Linked DNA regions of Homo sapiens. The protein of the gene in region 2 interacts with the protein of the main gene of each other region in a biochemical or structural test. Each region holds a gene or a part of one and is shown on either strand. Other genes may lie near its edges. The genes, in order: DAP3 and TNFRSF25.

Region 1 (3,540 bases), about 150 Mb from region 2:
ACTCCTAACCTCAGGTGATCCACCTGTCTTGGCCTCCCAAAGTGCTGGGATTACAGGGATGAGCCACCACGCCCAGCCAACATTTGTTTTAATACCTTTATCATGTTTTTTTGAACATTGAGCCTTCCATTAAGTTTGGAATTGCCTGTCAAATCCTACACCAATTCAATTGTTTTGTTAGGATTTCTTTTAAAAATATCAACACTGGCTGGGTACAATGGCTCACGCCTGTAATTCCAGCACTTTGGGAAGCTGAGGTGGGCAGATTACTTAAGGCCAGGAGTTCAAGATGAGCCTGGCCAACATGGTGAAACTCCATCTCTACTAAAAATACAAAAATTAGCTGGGCGTGGTGGCACACGCCTGTAGTCACAGCTACTTGTGAGGCTGAAGCAGGAGAATCGCTTGAACCCGGGAGGCGGAGGTTGCAGTGAGCTGAGATCGTGTCACTGCACTCCAGCCTGTGCGACAGAGCGAGACTCTGTCTCAAAAAAAAAAAAAAAAAATTAACACTATTTTAGTTATACTTACAAACAGTATTTGTTAGATATTCTTATTAGTAGACATATTTTAATATTTTCTTTGCAAATCAGTTTCACACACATTAGTACTTCCCAAATTTCCCACCAAAGTATTCTGGTAGCAAAAGGGGAATTAAACTCTGAAAGGTTAGTATGCTGGAGGTATGAGGTATGGATGGCCTTAGAGTTGTGAGGCAGCTGGTCACACCTGCTCCTGAGCCGCCATGTATTTAGTTCTAGAGAAAAAAGTCTAAATGGTTAAAGTAATAAAAATAAATTTTAGGCCAGGTGCGGTGGCTCACGCCTATAATCCCAGCACCTTGGGAGGCTGAGACGGGTGGATCATGAGGTCAGGAGTTCGAGACCAGCCTGACCAACATGGTGAAAGCCTGTCTCTACTAAAATTACAAAAATCAGCCTGGCATGGTGGTGGCACCTGTAATCCCAGCTACTGAGGAGACTGAGGCAGAAGAATTGCTTGAACCCCGGAGGCGGAGGTTGCAGTGAGCCGAGATCACACCACTGCACTCTAGCCTGGGTGACAGAGTGAGACTCTGTCTCAAAAAAAGAAAAAAAAAAAAAATCAACTAAAAATAAATTTTAGGCCAGGTGCAGTGGCTCACGCCTGTAATCCCTGCACTTTGGGAGGCCAAGACGGGGGTGTCACCTGAGGTCGGGAGTTTGAGACCAGCCTGACCAACATGGAGAAACTCCTTCTGTACTAAAAATACAAAATAGCCGGGCATGGTGGTGGGTGCCTGTAATCCCAGCTACTCGGGAGGCTGAGGCAGGAGAATCACTTGAACTGGGAGGCAGAGGTTGTGGTGAGCCGAGATCGTGCCATTGCACTCCAGCCTGGGCAACAAGAGTGAAACTCCGTCTCAAAAAAAAAAAAAGAAAAAAAATTTAAAGAGTTAATGTTTATTGAATTATTAACTTGTGTCAGAAATTTTAAGCATTTTTCTATATGCTTTCCATATTTACAGTGGCCCTAAGTGGTATACATAATTTTGTTATGAGATATATCAATTATTTATAGATTTCAGCTGAGATAGAATATATGCTTCAGTAATAGGAATAATCAAAAGCTGACTATCATGTTACTTAGTGCGGAATAATGTATTTCAGTTTTTAGCTAAGTTATATGGATAGATTTTCAAACTCAGTACCAACCCAGCTTCTCCTAACTGAGTAAATTAGAGGCATGCAATCTGATGGTCTTGGTTGCCACTTTAGGCAGAGTATATATACCACCCCCCACCCACTCCTTCCACACCCACCCACTCTTTCCTTCTTTCCTACTTTATCAGGTGAAGACATTCAGTGAAGCTTGCCTGATGGTAAGGAAACCAGCCCTAGAACTTCTGCATTACCTGAAAAACACCAGTTTTGCTTATCCAGCTATACGATATCTTCTGTGTATCCTTTCCTGCCTGCGTGGACCCTCATGAACCAATGCTTTCTCCCCTCAAATAAGGCAACAGAAGAAATGAAAAAAAGTACTGTTGAGGCCGGGCATGGTAGCTCACACCTATAATCCCAGGAGTTTGGGAAGCCGAGGCAGGCGTATCGCCTGAAGTCAGGAGTTCAAGACCTGCCTGGCCAACATGGCGAAACCCCGCATTTACTAAAAATGCAATATATTAGCCGGGTGTGGTAGCGTGCACCTGTAATCCCAGCTACTTGGGAAGCTGAGGCAGGAGAATCGCTTGAACCCGGGAAGCGGAGGTTGCTGTGAGCTGATATCAAGCCACTGCACTCCAACCCCATCTCAAAAAAACAAAACAAAGCATAACTACTGTTCACATACAAGTGATCCTTCCAGTCATGTTTTCTTTAACAACATATACTTTAGATGGAGAGAAGGGAACAGGAAAAACCCTAAGTCTTTGCCATGTTATTCATTTCTGTGCAAAACAGGACTGGCTGATACTACATATTCCAGATGGTAAGAACTTCCTGTTGTTTCTTCTGTCTGTTAGGTTTAGTTATCCTGTTACTGTGGTAGCCTTGCAGCTTTAATTTTCTTTTCTTTTCTTTTCTTTTTTTTTTTTTTTTTGAGATGGAGTTTCGCTCTTGTCGGCCAGTCTGGAGTGCAGAGGCGCAATCTCAGGTCACCGCAACCTCCGCCTCCCAGGCTCAAGAGATTCTCCTGCCTCAGCCTCCCAAGTAGCTGGGATTACAGGCGCCCACCACACCACCACGCCCAGCTAATTTTTTTTTTTTTTTTTTTTTGAGACGGAGTCTTGCTCTGTCGCCCAGGCTGGAGTGCAGTGGCACGATCTCAGCTCACTGCAAGCTCCGCCTCCCGGGTTCACACCATTCTTCTGCCTCAGCCTCCTGAGTAGCTGGGACTACAGGCGCCCGCCACCATGCCCGGCTAATTTTTTTTGTATTTTTAGTAGAGACAGGGTTTCACCATGTTGGCCAGGCTGGTCTCGAACTCCTGACTTCAGGTGATCCACCTGCCTTGGCCTCCCAAAGTGCTGGGATTACAGGCATGAGCCATTGCACCCGGCCTCAGCTTTACTTTCCTAACAGGGATCTGATAGCTAAAGGAAAAGCCTTTGCCAGTCACGATGGCTCAAACCTATAATCCCAGCACTTTGGGAGGCTGAGGCTGGAATATTGCTTAGAGCCCAGGAGGAGGCTGCAGTGAGCTGTGATCGCACCACTACACTCTAGCGTGGGCAACAAAGCAAGACCCTGTCTCAAAAAAAAAAAAAAAAAAGAAGAAGAAGAAAAGCCTTTACTCCAGATGTAGAGCAGACTGAGCTCATCCATCATGATTTCTTCGTGATATTACTGCCAAGCAGATTATAAGGTGAAGTCAATGTGACAAAAGGAAATTCGGCTAAAAGCTTCCTGAAGCCTTTTGATGCTAAGCAGTCCTTCTTTTGATATTTAATACCCATGGACATAAACTTCTGCCTTAGAGGTCGCCATGGAGTTTTGTTTTGTTTTGTTTTGTTTTGTTTTTGCCATCTGTTAACAGTCCTGAGTACCCATAGAGCCTTTT
Region 2 (3,404 bases):
ACTTCACCGGGTCTGCCCCCCTCCCCACTGCCTCAGGAAAGAGGAGGAGCGACAGAAGCAGGAGGAGCTGCGGCGGGAGAAGGAACAGTCAGAGAAGCTGCGGACGCTGGGCTACGATGAGAGCAAGCTGGCGCCCTGGCAGCGACAGGTCATCCTGAAGAAGGGGGACATCGCTAAGTACTAGAGGCCGCAGACTCCTGTCCGCAGCCTCGCAGCTCCGTGGGGCCCTCCGCCCCAGCCCCAGCCAGCCAGGCCCTGGTGGAAAGGCTGGGAGCCGCACAGCCCTCCCCTCCTGCGCTGGAAACCCTCCCTGACCCCCACCCTGGCCCCCCGTATCCCCAGCCCTTGGCAACACTGGAGTGCACACGCCGCCACGGTTGCCCAGAAAAAGTGCCCAAGCTGCTGACGCAAACAACAACAAATGCTGCTTATTTGCATGCCGACTTACATATATTTGCATGTTCGTTGACTATCAAAGAGTGCAGAGCTCTCCCCAGCCCCGTGGGTGGTGACTTTGTTTTCCTGCGGGGCTCAGCCCCCTCCAGGATGCAGCCCCCTCCCCCGCACCCCGGAACCGGCGTCGCTGGCGCATCCTGGGTGGAGGCAGGCCCCGAGCTCGGGGAAGGGGTTTTCCCTTCCTCTCTGACCCAGATCTGCGCGCGGCCTAGCCCGGGCCTCATTTCTTATCCCCGCCAAGGGTTTCCTCTCAGTCATTTGTTTACCAGAAACATGAAAACTGCCTGTCTGGCCGGGCCGCACTTGTGGCCCCCGGGACCCCACCTCTGGCCCCACCTCCCTCAAGTCTGCGCCCCGTCCCCAGCCAGACCCACTCGCTGCCGGGACCCTTTCACTGCCCCGGTGGAGTGAATAGAGGATGAGGGGCCCTGACCCTGTGTCTCCAACTGCTGCACCCCATCCCGACCCTGTCTCCGCCACCTCGCAGCCCCATTAAAGCGCTCTCATCTGGGCTCCGGTTCACTCACTCGCTGTGGCCGCGACTTGCTCTCTCCTTCTCGGGGTAATTGAGCCAGAGTGGACTCGGGAGGGGCAGGCTTGGGAGCTAAGGCCACACTGGACTCCACCATGGGTGCCAGATCCCGGGGTGACAAGATTCCCGTCCCCTTCGAATCCCTCGAGAAAAGTCCAGTCCACTTAACACCCCAGCCCCGCAGAAACGCCAAGAAGCCGTTTTTGTTTTGTTTTGTTTTCTTTCACAGATTTAATACCGCGATCTCAGCCAAACTCCGGCCGAGAAGTTGAGAAATGTCTTCACCCCCTCTCGACATTCGTTCGTGCTTCTTCGCCTTGGCTGGAGCGATAGGGGCGAGCAGGGGTGGGGCCGGCTGGTGCTGCTACGCAGGGCCGTGCCAGCGGCTTAATAAGTGACATAAAATGTCTACACGCATAAGTAACCGTACTTAGGGCTTCTGCAAGGGCCACCAGAGCGCCTAGGTGGCAAGTGGGCGCCGTGTCACGGGCCGCGCTGCAGGCGGCTGCGCAAGTCTTCCACGCAGCCGTCCAGCCCCATGCGCTCCAGGGCCGCGTAAACGGCTCCGAGGCCCGCGGGCTGCTGCTGGCGCCAGCGCTTGAGCATCTCGTACTGCTGGTCTCGGAAGCGGCCGATCTCCACCTCCACGGCTTCGATCTCTGCCTCGCGCAGCCCCAGCGTGCGCACGAACTCCTTCCAGCGCCGCGCTGGGACCGCGTCCATCACGTCGTAGAGCTGCGGGCCCGGCTGCAGCATCATGGCTGGCGAGCCGGCTGGGGACTCTGGCGAGAGTGTGGGCGCAGCAGCGGGGCCTGGGGCAGGGCCAGAGAGAGCCAATTGGGGTACGTGGGCCGCGGTCGGGAGGCAGAGTCAGGGGCGTTCGTGCGGGTACCCCAGGGCTGAAGCCCGCTGGATCCGGTGGGTCAGGGCATAGGGCGGACTCCGTCAGTTAGGGGGCAGAAAGGGAACACGTTGTGAAACCACAACTTCCCACCGCAGACAGGAGAATGGGGTCAAGGCCTCAGGCCACTGATGTCCCTTACCAAGAGCTCTGCTGGGCAACTGGTCCCAGGACCATGTCACCTGCGGGCAGAGCGCCTCCTGGGTCTCGGGGTAGCCAGGGGTCCAGCTGTTACCCACCAACTGGACGGTGCAGATCTTCTCACTGCTGTCAGGAGGTGCTAGAAGGGTGTGGGCGCTGTCCAAGGGTGACAGATGGGTGGCCTGGAAGCCAAGAGGGGCCCCAGGTCAGCCCTGCTTGCCAAGTAAGGCCCCTTACCCGCAGTGCCTCTCCAGGAGGGGACAGTCCCTGGTTCAGTCAGCAGACACCCCCGCAATGACACCTCCCACAGTTGGCCCTGCTCTCACTGTAGCCCAGCAGAACTCTTGCTTCTGCCTTGAGTCCCCTGCCCCCGCCTCCTTCCTCTTGTCCCCCAGCACCATGGGGCTCTCCTTCCATTGAACTGTTAGCTCCTGTGTACGAATCTGAACTCCAGCTGACTGAGCACCCCTTGAGGGCAGGCACTGTGCTGGTCTCATCCACTGATGACTCTGCTCCCAACACCTCTGTCCACTAGGGCTACCCGGTGCTGGCCGCGTGCCAAGCTCCAGGGATCATAGTAAGGCTTGATCTTCCAGCTCCAGAAGGCAGCCCAGAATCACACAGTGAGGTTCTTACCGGTGGTGGGGTCAGAGCCTCCATCCCAGCTTCATCTGCTGACAGACACAGAGAGATTGCGGTCAGCCACCAGGCAAGCCTCCTGGACCTGGGTGCTGGTACAGCTCCTCTAGGGTTCCTCTGCACCCCACACTCCCTGCCTCAGTTTCCCCTTCTGTATCAGGGTTGAGTAGACTCTGGGCTACCCATCCTGACCCCAGGCTTCTGGGTGCGTGTGTGGGTGTGTGTACTTACCAGTAACCAGGGGCTTGTGAGGCCAGCAGTGGCGGTATGTGTAGGTCAGGGTGGCCCCAAGCAGGAGGGGGACCACAAGGCCAGCCAGGAGCACCTGGACCCAGAACACTGAAAGCAGCTGGTGGGTGTTGGGTGGTTGCCCCCCTCCTCACCCGCCTCCCCTCGGTCCATCCCAGTTCTCCCACTCGCATTCCCAGCACACCACCTACTCTGCCTCCAGCCACAGACAGCGGCACAGCGCTCTGGACAGCTCCCCAGGGTGCTCCTGCAAGGGACGGGGGTGGCCTGAGGGATGAGGGGGTGCATGCCAGGAGGGGCTCCCTAAGACTGCCCAGCATCTGCTCCATCCTAGAGACCCTTCCCTCCCCAGGCCTCTCACTCTACCCAAGAATGTTCCTGTCATTGTGTCCCTGGTAACAACCACAGACACTATTCACTGAGCTTCTTCTAGACTACATGAAGAGTCACTAGAATGTCAACCCCAAAAGGACAGGGATTTTGCCT

What was found.
Region 1: the proteins of TNFRSF25 (region 2) and DAP3 form a complex in vitro, tested with the Homo sapiens proteins (one study listed by BioGRID).

The regions. Positions count from the first base shown.
Region 1 is NC_000001.11:155,723,551-155,727,090, forward strand, and holds part of DAP3 (small ribosomal subunit protein mS29), read left to right. Parts: intron 1-1,831; coding exon 1,832-1,940; intron 1,941-2,376; coding exon 2,377-2,469; intron 2,470-3,540. UniProt on the Homo sapiens protein: As a component of the mitochondrial small ribosomal subunit, it plays a role in the translation of mitochondrial mRNAs. Involved in mediating interferon-gamma-induced cell death. Displays GTPase activity in vitro.
Region 2 is NC_000001.11:6,459,963-6,463,366, forward strand, and holds the end of TNFRSF25 (tumor necrosis factor receptor superfamily member 25 isoform 2 precursor), read right to left. Parts: intron 3,186-3,404; coding exon of another isoform or gene 3,166-3,185; coding exon 3,110-3,165; coding exon of another isoform or gene 3,103-3,109; intron 3,009-3,102; coding exon 2,901-3,008; intron 2,705-2,900; coding exon 2,667-2,704; intron 2,213-2,666; coding exon 2,032-2,212; intron 1,801-2,031; coding exon 1,472-1,800; 3' UTR 1,224-1,471; coding exon of another isoform or gene 1,218-1,223; 3' UTR 824-1,217; downstream 1-823. UniProt on the Homo sapiens protein: Receptor for TNFSF12/APO3L/TWEAK. Interacts directly with the adapter TRADD. Mediates activation of NF-kappa-B and induces apoptosis. May play a role in regulating lymphocyte homeostasis.